Homo sapiens: one gene and its partners. The protein of the gene in region 7 purifies or fractionates together with the protein of the main gene of each other region. This does not show direct contact. Each region holds a gene or a part of one and is shown on either strand. Other genes may lie near its edges. The genes, in order: GLUD1, ETFA, STARD7, CS, MTCH2, MRPS6 and OPA3.

Evidence for each region.
Region 1: the proteins of OPA3 (region 7) and GLUD1 purify together in Homo sapiens (co-immunoprecipitation; one large-scale study listed by IntAct). This does not show direct contact.
Region 2: the proteins of OPA3 (region 7) and ETFA purify together in Homo sapiens (co-immunoprecipitation; one large-scale study listed by IntAct). This does not show direct contact.
Region 3: the proteins of OPA3 (region 7) and STARD7 purify together in Homo sapiens (affinity purification with mass spectrometry; one large-scale study listed by BioGRID and IntAct). This does not show direct contact.
Region 4: the proteins of OPA3 (region 7) and CS purify together in Homo sapiens (co-immunoprecipitation; one large-scale study listed by IntAct). This does not show direct contact.
Region 5: the proteins of OPA3 (region 7) and MTCH2 purify together in Homo sapiens (affinity purification with mass spectrometry; one large-scale study listed by BioGRID and IntAct). This does not show direct contact.
Region 6: the proteins of OPA3 (region 7) and MRPS6 purify together in Homo sapiens (co-immunoprecipitation; one large-scale study listed by IntAct). This does not show direct contact.

Annotation. Positions count from the first base shown.
Region 1 is NC_000010.11:87,088,344-87,091,843, forward strand, and holds part of GLUD1 (glutamate dehydrogenase 1, mitochondrial isoform a precursor), read right to left. Parts: intron 3,281-3,500; exon of another isoform or gene 1,219-3,280; intron 1-1,218. UniProt on the Homo sapiens protein: Mitochondrial glutamate dehydrogenase that catalyzes the conversion of L-glutamate into alpha-ketoglutarate. Plays a key role in glutamine anaplerosis by producing alpha-ketoglutarate, an important intermediate in the tricarboxylic acid cycle.
Region 2 is NC_000015.10:76,290,970-76,294,469, forward strand, and holds part of ETFA (electron transfer flavoprotein subunit alpha, mitochondrial), read right to left. Parts: intron 1,732-3,500; coding exon 1,650-1,731; intron 1,545-1,649; coding exon 1,462-1,544; intron 1-1,461. UniProt on the Homo sapiens protein: Heterodimeric electron transfer flavoprotein that accepts electrons from several mitochondrial dehydrogenases, including acyl-CoA dehydrogenases, glutaryl-CoA and sarcosine dehydrogenase.
Region 3 is NC_000002.12:96,198,828-96,202,327, forward strand, and holds part of STARD7 (stAR-related lipid transfer protein 7, mitochondrial isoform 1 precursor), read right to left. Parts: intron 1-3,500. UniProt on the Homo sapiens protein: May play a protective role in mucosal tissues by preventing exaggerated allergic responses.
Region 4 is NC_000012.12:56,273,765-56,276,330, forward strand, and holds part of CS (citrate synthase, mitochondrial precursor), read right to left. Parts: intron 2,432-2,566; coding exon 2,232-2,431; intron 1,368-2,231; coding exon 1,238-1,367; intron 1,115-1,237; coding exon 1,013-1,114; intron 33-1,012; coding exon 1-32. UniProt on the Homo sapiens protein: Key enzyme of the Krebs tricarboxylic acid cycle which catalyzes the synthesis of citrate from acetyl coenzyme A and oxaloacetate.
Region 5 is NC_000011.10:47,622,060-47,625,559, reverse strand, and holds part of MTCH2 (mitochondrial carrier homolog 2), read left to right. Parts: intron 1-2,783; coding exon 2,784-2,859; intron 2,860-3,500. UniProt on the Homo sapiens protein: Protein insertase that mediates insertion of transmembrane proteins into the mitochondrial outer membrane. Catalyzes insertion of proteins with alpha-helical transmembrane regions, such as signal-anchored, tail-anchored and multi-pass membrane proteins.
Region 6 is NC_000021.9:34,122,078-34,125,577, forward strand, and holds part of MRPS6 (small ribosomal subunit protein bS6m), read left to right. Parts: intron 1-3,263; coding exon 3,264-3,403; intron 3,404-3,500.
Region 7 is NC_000019.10:45,578,303-45,581,802, reverse strand, and holds part of OPA3 (optic atrophy 3 protein), read left to right. Parts: intron 1-3,500. UniProt on the Homo sapiens protein: May play some role in mitochondrial processes.

The DNA of each region.
Region 1 (3,500 bases), on a different chromosome or scaffold from region 7:
CTTTGTTTTTTTAAAAGAACCCTCTGCATAAAGTTCAGAGATCTTGCCTGCAGGAACAAAAAACACATAATAGAAAAATTGATTTACTTAGAATATAGACTATAGTTCATAATAAAAGCAGTCCTTATTTGGTAAACCTTCAATACGAGTACATCACCCTTGGTTATTTCTTTGCTCTTTCTCTCTTGGCATAAAAGAAAAAAAAAATTCATGCAAAATCCTACTAAGGCCCAATATGTACAAAATATCTTTTAAAAGTCCTATGTTGATATATTTGTGATAATGACAAACGATAAAAGAAGTCATACTACTGACAACCTTTGAAATTTTCATTTGTCATCTTTCACATTTTCCTCTAGCCTAGAAGCAAATCAGAAGAATTACGTCTGATAGACTTTCTCCAAGAATAATAATCAAGAGAAATAGCAATTCATAATAAACAAAGCATTTTCTTAGTTTTTAATGAAGAAAACTAAGAAAGTAATTTCAAAATTATTCAATAGAAAATCTTTAAAGATAAATGGACTACACACTGGTAGAGAAATGAGTTGTTCTGGCTAACACATTAATCTCTTAAACACCAAAGTCTTCAAACCTCTTTTGATGGAAAACTGTTTAAAATGTTATTTCAGGTCTTCGGAGTTGGGTGTAGGGGAAAAAGGTTATTTCATTTCCTTAGCAATTAGAATAAATGGACCTCTAGAGATATCATCTATGCTGAGTTTTATATGCAAAGCTGTTTGAATATGTATTTTTCTAGGAAGAAGGTAGGTCTTCTAATAGCTTTTAACAGAAATTTCAAAGGTATCTATGATCCAAAGTATTAGGAAGCATTGTGTCAATGGCATGAAGTGGTTCTCAATCAGCGCTTACAATTAAAAGCCTAAGATACAATTTGTAACTTTTTGCATAAATAAATCCCAGACAACAATGATTAAGGTGGGTGCTGGAATCAGATGCCCAGAATCTGAACCTCAACTCCACTACGTACTAGCTGTGTCACCCTGCCAAAGGACACTTCACTCCTCAACCTTAGTAGCCACATTTGGAAATCAGGGACAACAGTGTATTGCATGAGGCATAAAAGCAATGATACATGAAAAGTTCTTACATGCATTGTTGCTATAAGGCATAGAACTGATGATGCATGAAAAGTTCTTAATAAAATGCCTGGCACACACAGAGCTGAATAAATGTTAGCCTTTGCTAATATCTGACCTTGGTGAAGGCAGTTGACCTCAAGTGAAGGCAGAATGTGTGTGGCTGCAGAATCTTCTAGGTGTAGTTGCCTTTTTGTAAAGATAATCGGAAGGTCTTGAGTAGCTCCTTCTCCTAGTTTGTCTTCTTGTCCTTAATAAAGCCTTTCCTGCCTTTAACAGTAGTATTTCACATATTAACAATTCCGACTTGATAGTGAACACTTGAATCTGTATTAATTTCTGCCTCTGGAAAGGGGAAAATATTGATTCATTTGAATAACTAGTCAGTTTTAGACAGCGGCATTAGATTTAAGACTGTTCATGGTTATATTGGGGGAAGGACTTGGGGTAGAGCTGCTTCACTTTTCATTTTGTAACTTTCGTTACTATTTGATTATGTGAATCATGCATGTGTATTTTATGGGTTGCTGAGTACAAAATTTATGGGCTATTTATGAATCAATGTGCTCTAAAGTGATACTAGAGATTTTTCTCTTTATTACTTACATTGTAAAAGCCTAATTATTGGGTAAAATAAATAGAAAAGAAGAACAGTCACGTGGCAGAGACTAGTGTCTAGGATTTTTTCAACATCTACAGGTTAGTATTTTAGTTTTTAATGGTTACAGAACCCTTAGTATTTTTAACATAAGTAAATAAAAACCGATTTTCCTAAGCACTCTGAATTATTAACAGCGGTAAACCTAATTTCTTCCCACTATATGCCAAAAGTTCAGGCTCAATTTTTATTTCTTGTACTTAAACACTACAAGTTGTACTGAACTTTAATATATATTGGTGCTTAGGATCCAATTTTTGATGCCCTAATTCTTACAAAGTATACTTTGGATAATGAGTGAGCAGCTGTTTGTCTTCCTGCACGTGGGGCTTTACTGCCAAAAGCAAACTTGCTAAATGGATTCATACACGCAAGTGACAGAAAGACTGAAATCTGATGTACAGATCACTACCATTACCAAGCGTCTTCATTTTCTAGTATACTTTGGGAGAAAAGACGCATTTGGCTTCCATGAAATAAAAAGGCATAAGGGCAACACATTTCCGTATTTAAATAAGATGTATTAAAAACAACAACCTCGGGGCTAAGTGCTTTTAAAAGACACACAAATTACCTATCCTCTGACTGAACTTTCAGAAAAGTCCTAAATTAAATTCACCTACAAAGGTTATATTTTATCTGTGGCAGCAGATGCAGACACACAGCCACTTAAAAATATTAGAAACTGTGAGTTTATTAAAAGTTACCTAAGTTTTGATGGTTGTCAATTGAGCACAGCAAAATAAGTCAGAAACATTTTTTCCCCCAGTGAAGGCAGAGAAATATCTCATTTTAAATCAGTATCAGTGCTTTCTATAGTCTTCCCTTAAGCGCTAAACAATGACATCCCAGAGGCTGAGGGCGTCTTTAACACTGCATTGACTCCGGTCTTCCCTTGCATTATGTCATCAAGATTCCACTGTTTCCTTCTGGCATTTTGACTTTTAAAAACTAGTTACTGGATTAATATAGGGTACACTTTTTTGGGTACTAATATTTGTAATTAAAAGACTTAGGGTCAATGTATGAGAGAACTCCATCTACGGTCCATCAACTATATGTAAATTATGATAATTTTAGAAAATTTTATGATAGTAGCATCAGTGATAGGGAATTTTAATAGTTTTAATATCAAGACAACTGGGGGGGGGCAGACTGGAAGAGAAAGTTAATTGACTCCTACCATCAATAAATTGCTATTATCAATCTGTACTTTCCCTCCAAACTGACTTTAAAACAATAAACTTCCTTCTAAAAAGGTAGACTGGTCTCAGGCAGAACCATAGCAAATGAAATACAGATAATTTACTCTGGGAAAGTTAATAGAACAATCTTTGATAATATTTCCAAACCCACCAGAACTTTTGAACCAGTCTTCTCAAATCAGTCGCATATTCTCACACTATGCCCCTTTGCTGGAAATATTTTTAAGGCCTCACTTAAACTTCCCTTCAGATCCTTTAGCTTACCCTTTCAAATCCTTAACACAGACAAATCTAACGGCCTCAGGTACATGTAGTAACTGGGAAAAGAAAAGCACAAAAACAGTGTGTATTATTAAATATTTACTTGGAAAAAGTACACATCAGCCACCAAGTCTTATAACCATCTGTTTCCCTTAGAGATTATTGCTAGATTGTTGCTTTGCTTCAACCTCAAGAATTTTAATTTAGAAAACTCAGGGATAAGGTTGTTCTTGAGGGAAAATGAGATACAGAAAGCTGAAGGTTGGTAAAAGGGTG
Region 2 (3,500 bases), on a different chromosome or scaffold from region 7:
CTTTGGGAGGCTGAAATGAGAGGATGACTTGAGGCCAGGAGTTTAAGACAAGCCCGCACAACATAGGGAGACTACATCGATACAAAAAATTTGAAAATTAGCTGGGCATGGTGGCATGTACCTGTAGTCCTAGCTACTCAGAAGGCTAGGATAGGAGGATCGTTTGAGCCCACAAGTTGGAGGGTATGTTGAGCTACAATCGTGCCACTGCACTCCAGTCTGGGCAACAGAGCTAGGCTGAAGCAGGCAGATCACCTGAGGTCAGGAGTTCGAGACCAGCCTGGTCAACACGGCGAAACCCTGTCTCTACTAAACATACAAAAATTAGCCAGGTGTGGTGGCACGCACCTATAATCCCAGCTACACACGGGAGGCTGAGGCAGGAGAATGGCTTGAACCCAGGAGGTAGAGGTTGCAGTGAGCTGAGATTGTGCTGCTGCACTCCAGCCTGGGCGAGGAAAGTAAGACTCCATCTCGAAAAAAAAAAAAAAAAAAAGTAGGCCAGGCGCGGTGGCTCACGCCTGTAATCCCAGTACTTTGGGGGGCCGAGGCGGGCGGATCACGAGGTCAGGAGATCAAGACCATCCTGGCTAACACAGTGAAACCCCGTCTCTACTAAAAATACAAAAAATTAGCCGGGCGAGCTGGCGGGCGCCTGTAGTCCCAGCTACTCGGGAGGCTGAGGCAGGAGAATGGCGTGAACCCCGGGGGGCGGAGCCTGCAGTGAGCCGAGATGGCGCCACTGCACTCCAACCTGGGCGACAGTGAGACTCCATCTCAAAAAAAAGAAAGTAAAAATAAAGACTAAAAATGACACCTTATTAAGAATGGAACAAAAGAAAAGAGAGCTAAGATAACACCCACGGCCACAGAGAGAGAGCAAGAAAAATCCACTGACGAATTCCTTGTCTTAAGCTCCCATTACACTCCTCCCTCCATTTTTAACTTTATGTAGACTGCTATCCATCTTATAACACACTCATTCTTCAGACACATCACAATGCACATGATCAGATTACAGCTTTCTTTACCTTAAGGATGTCTTCAACCACCACAAGCCCTTTCCAAATTCCCTACGTAGATAAAATTTGGCTTTTCTAGATATCCATCAGCCATCCAAATAAACCATCTCTTAAAATGGGCTACTAATAGAAATGACTCTTGCTCGTTCACTCTCTCTCTCACATGCAAGCAGAATTCAGCATTACTTTTACATGCAGAAAATTTTAAAATAATAGCCTAATTAGAGTTTTCTCCACAACATAATTTGAAAACCTGGAAATGGTAGTTTTAACGGAAAATTATGACAAAATCTTGAAAGAATAAATTTTAGCAAAACTACCACATCAATTCAGATAAATCCAGATTGGCTACATAAACAGTCTGTTGCATACTTTCAGCACAATGAAATCTAACCCTTTCAAGCAGTGATATCAGATTCCACATTCTCAACCTTCTCACCTTTCCGAAGGCAGATGCTCCAGCACAGATGTGTGTGTAATTGAACTGCTTCTGAGTTGCCAAAATCAATGGTGTCAGTTCCTCTGAGAATTAAACACATTTGATAAAAAAATATTTTGAAATACTTTCATATTCATATATTCAAGCGTAATTTAGACACTACATTTTTTTCTACTGGAAAACCTCACCTGGAAGTAGGCCTTTGTACACATCATGCTGAGCCACCAGAACTTTTGCTATGCCTGCTACTTTACAGAGATCTTGTGCCACCTATGATTAAAAGATAAGTTCCTAATTATCCATCTATCAGAAATATACAAATAAAGCCACCACTATAAATATCAACAGATCATAAAATCTTAATGGCCAACTGTAAAAATTATTCTTATTAGCAAAAGGGCCAGTTAAGAATTAAAATATATTCCGGCCGGGCGCAGTGGCTCAAGCCTGTAATCCCAGCACTCTGAGAGGCTGAGGCAGGCAGATCACCGGAGTCAAGAGTTCAAGACCAGCCTGGCCAACATGGTGAAACCCCATCTCTACTAAAAATACAAAAATTAGCTAGGCATGGTGGCGGGCACCTGTAATCCCAGCTACTTGGGAGACTGAGGCAAGAGAATGGCTTGAACCCAGGAGGCGGAGGTTACAGTGAGCCAAGATCACACCACTTCACTCCAGACTGGGCGAAAGAGTGAAACTCCATCTCAAACAAACAAAGAATTAAAATATTAAAATACATTCCTTAACAAAGAAAATCTAATGCCAATAGATCTTACTACTGACTGACCTTACACTGTCCAACTACCAAGCATTTCAACAAAAATTCCTGCCTTGAAAAAGAAAAGTGCTAATTGACAAACCAAAATCAACATGGCTCTTTATTCAAATTTTGTTATAAATTGTGCTTTTTACTTTTGGTTCAATCCAAGTGTAAGTTCAATGTCCTGGAAATGGTGAAAATGAAGTTCTCTAGTAACATCCCATTGTCAACCACTGAGTTCCTGCCCACATACACATATTTATCTATGACAAAGCAAAATATTTCCTATTTTAATTCTTCATTTTTCCTGTTTGGAATTAGAATGGGGTTCTGAGAAAGCTTTTTGATGATTCAGATTTTCTATATTCAGAAGGCAATTAGATTTCCCCTTTTTAAGTATCTTTATTACCTCATGGCTGGTTTCCACTTTAGCTAAGTCATATCAGTCATACTATCGTCTTCTGTCTCCTTGTTTACCTCCAAACTGATTCATTGATTCACTGATGAGTAGGATTAAAAGGCTGTGCCTTGTGCCACCCTCATATGAACTGTTAGCTTGCAACAATATTCACTGAAGAAAGGATGCAGTGCAAGAATACATTCTCTGCTAAACCAAGTGTTCACCGGCATACCATTTGTACTACAGAGGCCCTTTATTATGGATGCAGCTGCATTTAGCTTCTCAAACTTTAAGAGAATTTCCAATTAAGAAACTCAGTTAATTGCAATGTAGCTGCATAGCAGCATGGGATAGAAAATGGGGCAGAATTTTCCCATTGAAACTATCTTGTTTTTACTGGCAAAACGGCTGGCATTATACAGAAGAATAACTTGCTGTTTATGACAAGTAGCTGAATAAAATGGTATAAAACCGAACTCTATTAAACGATCTCTTCATACAGGTACTGGTTGTTTTCTTTAAAATTAGAACATGACAGGTTAGGATTGTAACTGAGTACAGAAGACGATTTCTATTTTGATTTTTCTCAAAGTAGTATAAAGTATCAAAGTCTTTTTAAAGTAATATTACAATAATTATTTTAAATCACAGCAAAACAAACAACAAATCACAAATTCCTATATATCCAAAAACAGGGAAACCAAAAAGATAGCTTAGCCATCATATACTGTGGCTAATACAGACATACAAATAGATAGCTTAGCCATCACACATCACACATTGTGGCTGTATCAACTATGTAAGATCCTACAGTTGTTAGCAGGAATTGGGTAAAGAAATCCACATAACTAATCATAAACCCACCAGAATATGTTCTTT
Region 3 (3,500 bases), on a different chromosome or scaffold from region 7:
TCTTTACCCCATTTCAAGTTAATGTTTGTGTATGATAATGAGGTAGGAGTCTAAACTCATTCTTTTGCATCTGCTTCTCCAGGTGACCCAGTGTCATTTGTCGAAAAGCCTATTCCTTCCCCAGTGAACTATCCTGGCATCCTTGTTGAAAACTGACCAAAAATGTAAAGGTTTATTTCTAGACTCTCAATTTTATTCTAACAATCTAGATGTCTATCCTTATGCCAGTACCACAATGTCATTACTGTAGCTTTGTAATAAGTTTTGAAATTGGGAACAGTGAGTCCTCCAAACTTTGTTCTCTTTTTTCAAGACTGTTTTTGCTATTCTGAGTTCCTTTCATTTCCATATGACTATCAGAAGTGGCTTGCCAATTTCTGCAGAACTGCCTAGGATTTTGATAAAGACTACACTGAATTTGTAGATCACTTTAAGTGGTATTGCCATCTTAGCAATATTAAGTGTTCTAATCTAATCCATGAACACGGGATGTCTTTCACTTATGTCTTTTTAAATTTCTTCCAATGATGTTTTGTTGTTTTTAGTGTTACAGTTTTAGTTGTACACTTGTTAATTTATTCGTATGTATTTATTCCTTTTATGCTACTGTAAATGAAATTGTTAATTTTATTTTCAGATTCATTGTTAGTGTACATAAACATGACTTCCGTGTATTGATCTTGTATCCTGCAAACTTGATGAACTCATTTATCAGCTCTAATTGCTTTCTGTAGATTCCTTACTATTTTCTAAATATAAGATCATGTCAGCTGCAAATAGAGATAGTTTTATTTCTTCTTTCCAATCTAAATGACTTTCATTTCCTTATGTTGCCTGATTTCATTGGTTATGACCTCCAGTACAATGTTGAACAGAAATGGTGAGAGCAGAATCCTCATCTTGTTCCTGATCTTAGGAGAAAAGCACTAAGTCTTTTGCCATTAACTACACTGTTAGCTATGTTTTTTGTAGATGCCTTTTATCAGCTGCAAGAAATTTCCTTCTATTCCCAGTCTGCTGAGTGTTTTCTTTTTTAATCACAAAAGGAGGCTGGAATTTGTCAAATACTTTTTGTGTTTATTCAGATGATCACGCAGTTTTTGTCCTTTTTTCTATTAATATGGTGTAATAAATTGATTTTTGTATGAAGAACCGACCTTGCCGTTCCTTAAATAAATCCTACTTTTCATGGCATATAATCCATTTCATATATTGCTGAGTTCAGTTTGTTAGTATTTTGTTCAGGACTGCGAAAAGTTGTGTGGTTTTTTTTTGTTTGTTCTGAGCCCAGGCTAGAGTGCAGTGGCATAATCACAGCTCACTACAGCCTTAACTCCCCAAGCTCAGGTGATTCTCCCACTTCAGCTTCCCAAGTAGCTGGGACTACAGACAAGCACCACCACATGCAGCTAATTTGTTTTCTGTATTTTTAGTAGAGATGGGGTTGCACCATGTTGCCCAGGCTGGTGTTGAACTCCTGGCCTCAAGTGATCCACTAGCCTGGGCCTCCCAAAGTGCTGGGATTCCAGGCGGGACTCACCGGCTGCAAAAAGTTTTAAAACATGAAAAACACCACCATATATTGTACTATGTATCACTATGTATCATTCAGGGGTATATACATATGTATAAAAACATAGGGAATTATATACAACAAATTGGGATAATGGTGACATCTTGGGGAAAAATAAGAATACAACTGGAAAAAGGTACAGAGGAACCCTAAGTATACTTGTAATATCTTATTTCTTAACATAGCTGTACTTGCAACGCTCGTGTTATTATTTAAACCTTTTTTATATATCTGAAACATTTTATAATAATAATTTTTTAAAACTTGGCTTGTATTTTTCCCATAACCTCTTCTTTTTTGAGACAAAGTCTCACTATGTCGCCGAAACTGGCCTCAAATTCCTGGGCTTAAGAGATCCTTTCACTTCAGCCTCCCAAGTAGCTGGCACAATAGGCGTGTGCTACCATACCCAGCTTCTCCGTGCCCTCCACCTCACCCTACCCCCTGCAACATTTAAAGAAAGGTTACAGATAAGAAACAAAAATTGCTGGCTGGCTGTCTTATACACTCTATTGCAATTCAAGACTGAAGAAGACCCAAATTACTGCTACACTGTCTGAAATGCCTTTTCACCCTTCAAGCTTCAAAAAACCACAAAGGTAACTGCTAGGCAGAGTTAACCATACACACTGATTTTTATTCCTTTACACAGGCATATTACACTATAATTAATCTATCTTTATATCTGCTTTCCTTACTAAACTATAAATTCCTTAATAGCCCAGAATCAGTCTTTTTCATATTTGTAGTTCCAGCTCCTAGCATGTCCTGGTAAACATTACATGTCCTGGTAAACATTACATACATTACATGAATAAATTTAGTAAATCAAGAAATAATAAAATGAAAATAGGCCTCAGTAATCCAAATTTTTATTAAAAGATTGCATTAAGGCCTGGGGCAGTGGTTCACGCCTATAATCCTCAGCATTTTGGGAGGCTAAGGTGAGCAGATCACTTGAGCCCAGGACTTCAAGACCAGCCTGGGCAACATGCAAAACTCCACCTCTAAAAAAAAAAAAAAAAAATTACACAACAAATAGCTGGGCGTAGTGGCATGCAGCTGTAGTCCCAGCTACTGAGGAGGCAGAGGTGGGAGAATCACCTGAGCCCTGGAGGTCGGGACTGTAGCGAGCCAAAATCATGCCACTGCACTCCAGCCTGGCAACAGAGTAAGACTCTTAAAAAAAAAAAAAAATTGGCCAGGTGCAACGGCTCACACCTGTAATCCCAGCACTACAAAAAAAAATTAGCCAGGCATGGTGGCCTGCGCCTGTAATCCCAGCTACTCAGCAGGCTGAGGCACAAGAATCTGTTGAACCCAGGAGATGGAGGTTGCAGTGAGTTGAGATCGTGCCACTGCACTCCAGCCTGGGTGAGAGTGAAACTGTCTCAAAAATATATATATATTGCATTAATATATTGCTGCAAAAGCCAAAAATTCAAAGGTATAGTGTCAATCCAAGATTAAAAGTTTAGAGCAATTCAAAATAATGGTAAGTCTAAAGATTTGTGTTCTAGTCCTGGCTCTACAGCTGACCAGCTGTGTGATCTTATTTTATTTTACCTTTAAAGTGAGGACGTTATTTCTTGAAGTCCTATTAGTTCTAAAATTGAATTTGCTGAATTTTAAGCTTTGGACTTGGATGAAAATATTTATATAGGGGAATATTTGTCATTTTGACTGCCTGAAATCCCTTTCTATTTGGAAAGAACCCAAATAGGTGAATGCAGCCCCCCTCCCGCCCACAAGCAGTTAAAGCACAGCTCCTAATTTAAGTGAGGTTAGAGACTTCTAGAAGGGGCTTTGCATCTTGAAGATAACACAAAGGCACAGGATCTTGAGGGAGCTGGGAGTCCAGGAGTACAACCAATCTGGGGGAAAGAATGCCAGCAACACTGCTCTAAGTAGATTATTCCTGCTGCAG
Region 4 (2,566 bases), on a different chromosome or scaffold from region 7:
CTTAGTACTGCATGGCCATAGCCTGGAACAACCTGTAAAGAGTGAGGAAAAAAGATAGTATTCTCAGTAGAAATTCTTTTATTTTTCGAGACAGGATCTCACTCTGTCACCCAGGCTGGAGTGCAGTGGCATGATCACATCTCACGGCAGCCTCGACCTCCCAGGCTCAGGCAATTCTCCCACTTCAGCCTCCAGAGTAGCTGGGACCACAGGTGCACACCAACACATCTGGCTTTTTTTTTTTTTTTTTTGGTAAAGATGGGGTCTGGCCGTGTGCGGTGGCTCATGCCTGTAATCCCAGCACTTTGGGAGGCTGAGGTGGGCAGATCACCTGAGGTTGGGAGTCCTAGACTAGCCTGACCAACTGACCAACTCGGAGAAACCCCGTCTCTACTAAAAATACAAAATTAGCCGGGCATGGTGGCGCATGCCTGTAATCCCAGCTACTCGAGAGGATGAGGCAGGAGAATCACTTGAACCCGAGAGGCGGAGGTTGCAGTGAACTGAGGTTGCGCCACTGCATTCTAGCCTGGGCAACAAGAGCAAGACTGTCTTTAAAAAAAAAAAAAAAAAAAAGATAGGGTCTGTGTTGCTCAGGCTGGTCTCAAACTCCTGGGCTCACGAGATCCATCCACCCTGGACTCCCAAAGTGCTAAGATTATAAGCGTGAGCCACCACACTCAACCTATTTAAAACTGTTTTTTAGAGAATGGGGTCTTGCTGTGTTGTCCTGGCTGGAGTGTAGTGGCTATTCACAGGAGTGATCTTAGCACACTGCAGCCTTAAACTCCTGGCCTCAAGCAATCCTCTTGCCTCAGCCTCCCAAGTAGGTGGGACTACAGGTGCATGCCATTGTGCCCACCTAGAAATTCTTTTCTAAATTCTTCAAGGTAGATAAATGAAGAAAAAAAAATCTCTAATTTAGGGACCTCTTTCATTCTTTTCTTAATTCTTCCAAATTGCAGAACTTGTGTCTTGGTTTCTTTCCTAGTCGTTAAGCATCTCTGCTTACCCGTCCTGAGTTGAGTGTGTTCCAGATGTAGTCTCGTAACTTCTCATCTGACACATCTTTGCCAACTTCCTTCTGCAGCTGTGTTAGCCAGACAAGCACTTCCTATGGGTAAGGTTTGGGGAAAAAGGGAATGTTAATACATATGCCAGAAGAGAATGCCAAGATCAGAAACAAAGCATGGGGTAAGGAAAACATGTAGCAGGAAAATAAAAAGAATAGTCTTACCTGATTTGCCAGTCCATGGAGAGGCCCTGCCAGCCCGTTCATGGCTGCTGCAAAGGACAGGTAAGGGTCGGAAAGGGCACTGCCCACCAAATGGCTGGTATGGGCACTTACATTGCCACCCTCATGGTCACTGTGGGGAAGTAAGAAGGGAGAGCCAAGGGAAGAAAGAAGGGGCAGATTATGGAAACTTTGCTGTTCTCTTATTTGCCACTTACTAGCCTAGTTATGGGCTCATGCCAGCCTATAGCCAGTCAGTTATACCTAAACTCTTGTAAAAGACATCCTAATCTTGGCCAGGCACAGTGGCTCACGCCTATAATCCTAGCACTTTGGGAGGCCAAGGCGGGTGGATCATGAGGTCAAGAGATCAAGACCATCCTGGCCAACATGGTGAAACCCCGTCTCTGCTAAAAATACAAAAATTAGCTGGGCATGGTGGCACACATCTGTAGTCCTAGCTACTTGGGAGGCTGAGGCAGCAGAATCACTTGAACCTGGAGGTGCAGGTTGCAGTGAGCCAAGATTGCGCCATTGCACTCCAACCTGGCGACAGAGCAAGACTCCATCTAAAAAAAAAAAAAAAAAAAAGCATCCTAATCTCATTACCAGCTTTTGTTCACTCATCCACAGAGCTGGAGAGGTTACTGGTTGATGATGCCTGTATGCTCTGCTCCATGACTCCAACCTAGCTTTAATAGCAATGGCCCCAAAGAGCGAGCTCCTGGAAAGCTGAAGGACCATCTAATGTGAGCAGCTAGTACCTTTTCCCAGCCAGAAGCACCATCTTGTTCTTAGCATGGTTACAGTAATTTCTTTAGGCCTCCTGACCTTGCTTACTAGACCCCTTTCTTGCCTTGGATCATCCTTTATGCCACGTTTCTGTCTTCTTGCTGCCTATCATCTGTTCTCAGAAGATGAGAACATAAAGGAGCTTTTAAAAAAATTTCCCACCAATTGAGGCACCTAGTGGCTGTGGTTGCTGGGTCTAGCTTACCTGTGGATGGTGAGGTACAGGCGCGTGAGCTCAGTGAACTGATGATCAGTATAGCCTAACATGTTGGTGAAATTGTGAGACCAGTCCAGGTTAGAGTCAATGGCCCCAATACCGCTGCCTTCTCTGTAGAGATTTCGGTAGATCTTTGCTGCAACACAAGGTAGCTTTGCGATTAGATCCATAGAGTCTTCATAAATCAACTGACAGAAGAGGAGCAAGATGGAGAAAAAAAAAGGAATTATCAGCAAAGAAGAATTAGGCAGGGATATCGTCTGTCCTCCATGAATTGGGGCTATTTGGGTTGATGGTTAGTTATATGATGGGTTGTTATATAT
Region 5 (3,500 bases), on a different chromosome or scaffold from region 7:
TTTTTTAAAAAGGGGGGGAGGAAAAGTATAATTGATACCATTAGAAGATTCCTAATTTTTTTCTTTGTATGCCCTATGCAGCAGCAGCCTCAATTTGTATTTATTTATTAATTATTATTATTATTTTTTTTTTTTTTGAGATGGAGTCTTGCTATGTTGCCCAGGCTGGAGTGCAGTAGCATGATCTCGGCTCACTGCGACCTCCACCTCCTGGATTCAAGTGATTGTCCCGCCTCAGCCTCCTGAGTAGCTGGGATTACAGGCATTCGCCACCATGCCCAGCTAATATTTTTGTATTTTTGGTAGAGACAGGGTTTCACCATGTTGGCCAGGCTGGTCTCGAACTCCTGACCTCAAGTGATCCACCCGCCTCAGTCTCCCAAAGTGCTGGGATTACAGGCATGAACCACCATGCCAGGCCAATTACTATTATTATTTATAGTTTTTGTTTTTGTTTTTGTTTTTGTTTTTTGAGACAGAATCTCACTCTGTCACCCAGGCTGGAGTGCAGTGGTGCAGTCTCGCTCCATTGCAACAGACACCTCCTGGATTCAAGCAGTTCTCATGCCTCAGCTTCCCAAGAAGTTGTGATTACAGGCATGTGCCACCATGCTGGGCTAATTTTTGCATTTTTAGTAGAGATGGGGTCTTGCTATGTTGGCCAGACTGGTCCTGAACTCCTGACCTCCGGTGATCTGCCTACCTCGGACTTCCAAAGCGCTGGAATTAAAGGCGTGAGCCACTGCACCTGGCCTATTTTTATTTATTTTTAATTTTTTTAGAGATAGGGCTGCAATGTGGTGGTGAAGTCCTAGCTCACTGCAGCCTTGAACTCCTGAGCTCAAGGGATCCTCCCATCTCAGCTTCCCAAGTAGTTGGGAGTACATGTGCATGCCACCATGCCTGGCTAATTATTTTTTGTGAAGACACAGGGTCTCACTTTGTTGCCCAGGCTGTTCTTAAATTTCTAGGCTCAAGTGATTCTCCTTCCTCAGCCTCTTAAAGTGCTGGGATTACAGGGGTGAGCCACCATGCCCAGCCAACATATTGTTATTTTAAATCTTTATCTTTTCTATGAAAGTGACAAAAGGTATATCAGGGATTAAATGACAATCCATACCTGTTTTTCCTAGGGGCTTTATGGAGAAAGTGAGTTTTAAAGAACCAGAATTAGGATATTTAGTCTATGGAAAGTTTGATGACCTTTTCTCTGTATTGGTTAGAAGGGCAGGTTTTGGTATAGTGGTAGACTCCATTGATTTCCAAATTCTAGATGCCAAGTGACTCTACTGAGTTGGGCAAAATTTTGCCTTTTTTTTTTTTTTTTTGAGATGGAGTCTCACTCTGTTGCCCAGGCTATAGTGCAGTGGTGCAATCTCGACTCACTGCAACCTCCACCTCCCAGGTTCAAGCAATTCTCCTGCCTCAGCCTCCTGAGTAGCTGGGATTACAGGTGCCCACCAGCATGCCTGGCTAATTTTTTGTATTTTTTTGTTGTTGTTATTGTTGAGACAGAGTCTTGCTCTGTTGCTCAGGCTGGATTGTGGTGGCGCGATCTTGGTTCACTGCATCCTCCACCTCCTGGGTTCAAGTACTTCTCCTGCCTCAGCCTCCAGAGTAGCTGGGATTATAGGCACTTGCCACCACCCCCGGCTAATTTCTGTATTTCTAGTAGAGACAGTGTTTCACCATGTTGGCCAGGCTGGTCTCGAACTCCTGACCTCAAGTGGTCCACCCTCCTCGACCTCCTAAAGTGCTGGGATTACAGGCGTGAGCCACTGCACCCAGCCTTGCCTTTTTTGTTTAATTCAAAATTCTTTTCCCATATGGTACCTGACATATCATTAAACATGTTACTGTTTTCAAATAAGATCAGATAGCTATGTGGAGTTTTGAACATTTTACATTGTTTGTTTTCTGGTTTTGTTTGTTTCATGTTACTCCTGGCAAGCTGTGATGTTTTCTGATACGTAGAGCAACTGCCATTTTTTAGCACAGTGTAAACTTGAAGGATGAATTAAATGTATTATTATTATTTACAGTTTTTTCAAGATGAAGTGATTATACCTAAGTAGGAACATATATATCTACTGTTTATATCCGTTTTCATGTTTAGTATCTTTGTGAACACCAGTTAGTTTTTAAATCTCCTTTCCCTGCTCTTTTTTTTTTTTTTTTTTTTTAAAAAAAGACTGGTTCTTACTCTGTCACCCAGGCTGGAGTGCAGTAGTGCAATCTTGGCTCACTGCAACTTCCGCCTCCTGGGTTGAAGCAATTCACATGCCTTAGCCTCCCAAGTAGCCGGGATTACAGGCATGCGCCACCATGCCAGCTCATGTTTTTGTATTTTCAGTAGAGATGGGGTTTCACCATGTTGGCCAGGCTGGTCTTGAACTCCTGACCTCAAATGATCCACCTGCCTTGGCCTCCCAAAGTGCTGGAATTACAGGTGTGAGCCACCGTGCCCGGCCACCTTTCCCTGCTCTTTAATCATGTAAATGCTGTGTTCTGGAGTTTCATTTGTCCACAAAGGAAAAGTCTAAATGTTTTAGAAATTAAGGTTGAAGTTTATGTTTATTTATTTATTTGAAACCTAAATATAGGGGAGGAATTCTCTTTTGGATGCTTGATCGTTCCCCTGCTTCAATATGATTTGTTTCATTGAACTAAAATGATCTCTCAGGGAATCTTCTGTGCAGCAGAATATTTTGACAAGGTTTATCAACGTCTCAAGAGAATGGTTAATATTAACATGAATAGCTCCATGTTTTTTTCTATTTTAGTCTTGCTGGTGGATGCCCTCCTTACTCCCCAATATATACGTCTTGGATAGACTGTTGGTGCATGCTACAAAAAGAGGTATTTCTTTTTCTCTGTCTCTCTCATTTTATTTTGTTTTATTTTTATTTATTTGTTTTCTTAAATATTGTCTCTGGAATCCCAAGTTAACTCTTGTAGCTCACTTTAGCTAGAGTTAGTCTAGTCTGCCAGTTAATGTACACTTTACAGTGTTCTGTGTTTTCACTTTGGCATAATAGTAAAATGTGATGTTTAGAAATCATGAGCAGGAGTAATGAAGAAGAAAGAATCCCTAGATGAGACCTAGAAGCCATTTGAGTGCCCACATTCAACTTACAAATACGATCCAGGTAGATTATTATCCTGGTAAAATGATGGCCTTGATTTTAGACTCTTTTTTTCCCCCAAACTCACCTTTCATAACCACTTATTTGTCACAGTGGTATTGACAGAGCTGGTCTTATACTTCTAGAGTCTTGTTAGTGGATGATTTTGCCTAGATACCAATTTAGGGTTTGTTATTACTATGAGGTGTATAATCTGCAACAAAAAATTATTTATTATCTAGGCAAAGCTTTATTGGAAAATAAAATAATGGGCTGGGTGCAGTGGCTCACGCTTATAATTCTAGCACTTCGAGAGGTCTAGGTGGGCAAATTGCTTGAGCCTAGGAGTTTGAGACCAGTTGAGGCAACATGATG
Region 6 (3,500 bases), on a different chromosome or scaffold from region 7:
TAAGGACCTGCCAGCTTCCCTCAGCCCATCACAATATAGAACCAGGGGTTGGCCAGATAGTAAATAGTTTAGGCTCTGGGGCCATGTGGTCTCTTGTAATTACAGATCTACCTTTAGCACAGAAGTAGCCATAGACACTATGCAGATGTGTGAGTTGGCTGTGTTCCAGTTCAACTTTATTTGCAAATACAGGTAGCAAGCCAGATTTGGCCCAAGAGCCCTGGTTTGCCAACCCTGCTTTATGGTGAGGTAAGGTCTATGGGGCGTTATTTTTGCTCCTCCTTCCACCTTTCGTTTTATACTTCTGGGTGTTTTGAAATTAAAGTGAGATGAATGTGGCCATTCCAGTAGTCTACAGTTTGACCTTGACATACTGAAGTCAAACAATTTTTTTTTTTATATTTTCCTAAGTTACATTCTTGTTAGGTAGCCTTTCCCCTTTTTGAGACAGATGTAAGAAGAAAATGTTTTTTACTTTATAAGCTCTTACTTCAGAAGAGGGTAATGAGTTTTATACTGTAAACACTTCAGTTGGAACTTAAAAGATATTGAGATATATTCCTTTTTAATCAGGCAAAACTGGAATTGAAATTTATTTGGGTAGCTAATCAGAAAACTAATCAATCAAATGTTTTTTTCCTTTTTTTTTTTGAGTGCAAAGCTGAGACCCGACTCTTTATTTGGATGGGCTGTTCCTTTACCTTATCATACGTTAATTGATGTAATGCCAGGTCAAGAAACAGCATTTTCAGTTAAATGAAATACTGTGCTGCTGTTAATAATGAGTCCTCTGCAGATGTATGGCGATGTCTTTGTGAACTATAATGAAATGTGAGAAGAATGTAGTCTTCATATGATTAGAACTGTCTAGGAATGTGTTTGATACAATCATAAGGATAAATTGCCTTAGACTTTTTACCTACTGTTAATGGGAAGAGATTTTGGCCTGAATTTTTATTGTCTTCAGGAAATTTCTGTTTTATCTTAAGGTTGGTTAAATATATAAACAACGATTCAGTAGGAATTTTTAAAATCCCTAATGGACTTCAATATGAAAAGAAAGTAAAGAATGTTTTTTTCTAAGCCTTAAGCCAATACTTAGCACATTTCATACCATTTTAGCAGCACTTGTCAGAAAGAAAATTTTAAAAATATAGTGGATTTTGTTTGGTTGCCAGAATGCACACTTAAACTTGTTCTGCAATTTTCTCTTCATTTGATCCCCAAATGAACCTCTGGAAGGTAGCCTATTCTTAAGTTTCCTCCTGCACTTTAAAATCACCCTGCTTGCACCTCTTCACGTAGGTCTTTGAGGAGATGTGCACCTTGTCTTTGCCAAGGTGTGCCTCTGGCTTCCTCCCCGATGGTTTCCACAGCTTTCCTTCTCCTTGCAGCAGGCGTTTCCACTTAATAGCTGCCCTGTCAGCATCTCTCTAGAGATCCCATCCCAAATCTGTAAACCTTCTTGGCTTTTTTTTTTTATGAAGATAAAATATGTAACAATAAGACACTAGACCATATAGTAGTTATCCAGTAAATCATAGCTGTCATCGTTGTTGCTATTTTAGAAATCCTACATTTTATCGTCTTGCATGGTCCGCTCCTTTTTGACTACCAACTTGCCCATGTGTTTTCTCCTAAAACACGTTGCTCAAGTTGCTTGTCCCTGGAGCCCTGGCATTTTCTCCTCCTCACCATTGTTCTCATACCTCTACCATGGGAACCTTGGCAGCCTGCTTTCTGGCCCCATCTTGCCAAATGCCCATGTAGCTACCACACCGCGGCTTTTTCTTGATCTCTGTCCTCTACCCCATTGTCATTCTGGACAAGGCAGTCTCCCGATTTTCCTTGTCCTATTTGATGATACGTTTTATATTTGCTTCTCTGACTTTGAGTCCTCTTGTTAGCCCCTAAATGTTTGTACTCCCCAAGGTTCTGCTGGTGATCTCCTTTCCTCTCCCCCTCCACCCTTTCTATTGATCTCACCTCCTTCTCAGGCTTCAGAGAGCCGTCTGTGCAGGTGACTATGAAATGTGTATTTCTCATCCACCTGCTTTGAGCTTAAGATTTACATCTGGAGAGGTCAACCTAGGGGAGCCATGGCATCTGAGACTCAGCGTGTCTTAAACCAGATTCATCTCTTACTGTCCTCACCAGCTTCTCCAGCTCTCCTTTTAGCTGTAGTGACAGTTGCACTCTCTCAGCCACCAGATTGTGGTGCCCTTCTTCGCCACATCTTGCCTTCATTCTCCACATTGCATTCGTTGCAGTTTTCAGGCTTATCCTTATAAAGTATCTTTTCTTCCAAAAATTGCTTGTGTATACATATGCATAGAGAGATATCTGGAAAGAAATTCACCAGAAAGTTTAATTCACCATCCAGTCTATCTCTGGGTAATGGGATTCTATATTGTTCAAGCTTTTTTTTTTTTTTTTTTAAATAACAGGCCTTGATTACTCATGGACTTGTGCCCAGTGTATACCCGTCTATCTCCTCAGCACTCCCTTGCCCTGAACCCCATCACTGGGGCTCAGTTGCTGGTTCATTCATTCTTTGTACCTCCGGTCATCATTTTCCGGGTGCCTTTCAAGTAAACTTTCCTTAGTGAAACCCTTCTTCCAGCTGAATGTTTCTTCCTTTCGTGAGCCCTCTGGTCTCTATGCTATTTCCTGTATTCTGCCCTCTGCTCTCCATACATGTGTATTTTGTGTTCTGTCCTTTATTAGATTGTAAGCTCCATGAGGGCAGAGTTTGGGTCTGATTACCCATCCTTTCCCCCTTTTGGTTACAGTCTCCCAGTTTTTCTTTGGGAGACAACACCTTTTCCCCCTGGCTACAGTTTTGGTGGGATGGGCAGTTCAGGTGTCCTGCCAACGAGATACTCTTCTCCTGGAATTTGAATTTTGAGTCATGGGATACAAGGACTGACAGTGATTGGCACTGATTCAGCCTGGCCGAGGTGCTCTGAAGAAGCCACTCATTAGTTCCTGCCTCCCAGATCCCTGGAGCTGCCCTGGTCCCTGAACTCTCCGAAGCCTGGTTCTTCAGATATTCCTCGTATCTGTGAGCTATCTCATATCCTTACAATAAATTCTCTCTCTCTTTTATTTTAAGTTAACCAAAACCAGCTTCTGTTGCTTTTACCCAGCGATTCCTACCAGTAGAGCTGTTATGATTGGAACTGAGCAGACTTAATCATTCTAGCTCTTATATTAATTCTGATGCTTTTTTTTCTTTTCTTTAAAAACACAAACAAAAACAGCCAGAGACTGCTGCTACTTTGAAACGTACGATAGAGGCCCTGATGGACAGAGGAGCAATAGTGAGGGACTTGGAAAACCTGGGTGAACGAGCGCTTCCTTATAGGATCTCTGCCCACAGTCAGCAGCACAACAGAGGCGGGTAAGTTTCTTCATGAAGTCTTGAAAGACGTTTTTGATAGGCTCAGTAAAGAGTACTGTTCAATTACTATTAGAAGTTCTTAAAATTTCACATTGAG
Region 7 (3,500 bases):
ACAAAACACCCTCCCGCACAGCCAACTCTGCGTGAATTACTCTTTGTCTTGCAGTTCTCCTCTCTTGATGAATCAGCTCTGTCTAGGCAGCGGGCAAGGTGAACTCCTTGGGCGGTTACACACCATTCATCCCTCCATCCATTCATTATTTCCTTTAGCTGGTATTTTGTGAGCCTCTGCCCTGTGCCAGGCCTTGTGCTGGCAATGCTGGCGAAACAGCAGGGACCAAACCAGCACCAATCTGTGCCCTCAAGGAATTCCTAGTCCTGCGGGGGACAGACGTATCCCCCAACAGTGGGCAGAGCTGAGATGGGGGAGCCCACTGGGCACCTGACATGGCATGGGGTTCAGGGAGGGCTTCCTGGCAGAGGAGACATCTGAATTGGGACCTGAAGGGTGAGGACAACACCAGGACAAGGCGTAAGGAAAGCACTGGGGCAGAGGGAGGAGCACACACAAAGCCCACATGATTAAGGGAGTGCACTTTTTTTCCCCCTCTGTAAGTTTGGATGCTTAAAGTTTGCTTTCCAGGGCCCGGAATTCTTGGTTGTTCGGTGTTTGGTGGGGTCTTTGTTGGGGCTGCAGCTCTTAGAATGGGAAAGTATTAGATTTCACAGTTACCAAAGTGCTTTCCTGTTAGCCATCTCATTTGACCCCCACAACTGTTTTGTCCCCATGTCCGGAAAGAGGAATGACTTCCTCTGGTTTATAGAAGGGAAAATGGAGGTGTTGAGGGCAGCAGTTAATTGCTCAGGTCATACGCAGAGATTTGTGCCAGAGGCGAAACTTTGGACACTGAATTCCTAGACCCAGTTTGTTTCCTGTCTCTGCCTGTCTTCCAAACACTGTGACATTCTTAGCGTTGTGGTTTAGAAAATGGCTTCTGGAGCTGGGCGCAGTGGCTCATGCCTGTAATCCCAGCACTTTGGAAGGCGGAGGTGGGTGGATCATGAGGTCAGGAGTTCAAGACCAGCCTGGCCAACATGGTGAAACCCTGTCTCTACTCAAAATACAAAATTAGGCAGGTGTGGTGGCGCACACCTGTAGTCCCAGCTACTTGGGAGGCTGAGGCAGGAGAATTGCTTGAACCTGGGAGGCAGAGGTTGCAGTGAGCCAAGATCACACCACTGCACTCCAGCTTGGGCGACAGAGCGAGACTCTGTCTCAATAAATAAATAAATAAATAAATAAATAAATAAATAGGCTTCTGTGCTGGGCGCGGTGCCTCCCACCTATAATCCCAGCACTTTGGGAGGCCGAGGCAGGCAGATCACCTGAGGTCGGGAATTAGAGACCAGCCTCACCAACATGGAGAAACCCCGTCTCTACTAAAAATACAAAATTAGCCAGACGTGGTGGCGCATGCCTGTAATCCCAGCTACTCGGGAGGCTGAGGCAGGAGAATCGCTTGAACCCAGGAGGTGGAGGTTGCAGTGAGCCGAGATCACGCCATTGCACTCCAGCCTGGGCAACAAGAGTGAAACTCTGTCTCAAAAAAAAAAAAAAAAAGGCCGGGTGCAGTGGCTCGCGCCTGTAATCCCAACACTTTGGGAGGCCAAGGTGGGCAGATCACGAAGTCAAATTTCAAGACCTGCCTGACCAACATGGTGAAACCCCTTCTCTACTAAAAATACAAAAATTAGCTGGGCGTGGTGGCACGCGCCTGTAATCCCAGCTACTCGGGAGGCTGAGGCAGAAGAATCACTTGAACATGGGAGGCGGAGGTTGCAGTGAGCCGAGATCGTGCCACTACACTCCAGCCTGGGTGACAGAGCGAGACTCCATATCAAAAAAAAAAAAAGAAAAAAAAAAAGAAAGAAAATGGCTTCTGGAGTCAGACTGACATAGGTTTGAATCCCTACCCAGACTGGTGACTTTGGGTACGTCATTTAGCCCCTCTTAGCTTCAATTTCCGATTCTGTACATTGGGTATTATGTAATGGTCACATTAACTGGGCTTGTACTTTGTGCCACGGCTTGTCTGCAGCACCTTCCAGCCTCTGGCACTGGGTCCTCACCAGTTATGATGAGGTAGATACTATTATTATTATTATTATTATTTTGTGTATATACTATGTATGCATTATGCTGTAAATAATATTTATTGTGTTGTGGTGAGGATTAAGTAAATGGATATAAAATGTTAAGTCAGTGCCTGGCATAGGGTCATGGCTGTCACGTAGATGTTATAGATACAACAGGCAGGAAAAAGCAAAACATCTTGCCCTCAGGTACCTTACATTCTTGTGGAGGAAGCCAGACAATAAATGAAATAAATAGTTGGCTGGGCCCAGTGGCTCATGCCTGTAATCCCAGCACTTTGGGAGGCTGAGGCTGGTGCATCACTTGAGGTCAGGAGTTTGAGACCAGCCTGGGCAACATGGTGAAACCCCATCTCTACTAAAAATACAAAAATTAGCCAGGTGTGGTGGCAGGCACCTGTAATCCCAGTTACTTAGGAGGCTTAGGCAGGAGAATCACTTGAACCCAAGAGGCAGAGGTTGCAGTGAGCCGAGATTGCACCACTGCACTCCAGCCTGGGTGACAGAGTGAGATTCCATCTCAAAAAATAGTTAAAAGATGAAGTATATTAGATAGCAATAATTGCTCTAGGAAAAAAATCAGGGTTGTAGAACAAGGAGTATTTAAAGGAAGGCTATAAGCCTAGATAGGATTGTCAGGGAGAACTCACTGAAAATATGCCAAGGAGGGAGGGAACGAGCAGCATTGCCATCTGGGGGAAGAAACGTTCCAGCCCAGAGGATCCCGCATGCACACAGGACCTGAGGCATGAGCGTGCCTGGCACACAGGACAGAGGAAACTGATGACGGGAAAGGGGGACAGTTTGTATGGGGCCTGTGGGTCACTGCAAATGCCTTGGCTTTACTCTGAGTGGAACAGGACTTACTGGAGGGTTCTGTGCAGCAGAAGGACAATATCAGAGTTCTGTTTTATTTTATTTTATTTTATTTTTTGAGACAGAGTCGCACTCCGACACCCAGGCTGGAGTGCAATGGTGTGATCTTGGCTCACCACAACTTCCGCCTCCCGGGTTCAAGTGATTCTCCTGCCTCAGCCTCCCGAGTAGCTGGGATTACAGGCATGCGCCACCACGCCCGGCTAATTTTGTATTTTAAGTAGAGATGGGGTTTCTCCATGTTGATCAGGCTGGTCTCTAACTCCCAACGTCAGGAGATCTGCCCGCCTTGGCCTCCCAAAGTGCTGGGATTACAGGCATGAGCCACCACGCCTGGCCCGGGAGCAGAGTTTTTAAGGATAACTTGGTGGGTGAGGGGAAGCCAGTGAGCCAGGAGTGCTGATTGGTCAGAGATGAAATCATAGGAATTCAGAGATGTCTTGTGCTCAGTTAGTTCCTGGGTGGCGGTGGGGGAGGGGGAGGGCGGGCACAAGATCAGATGAGCCAATTTTTTGATCTGGGTGGGGCCAGCTGATCCATCAAGTGCAGAGTCTGCAGAATATCTCAAGCACTGATCTTAGG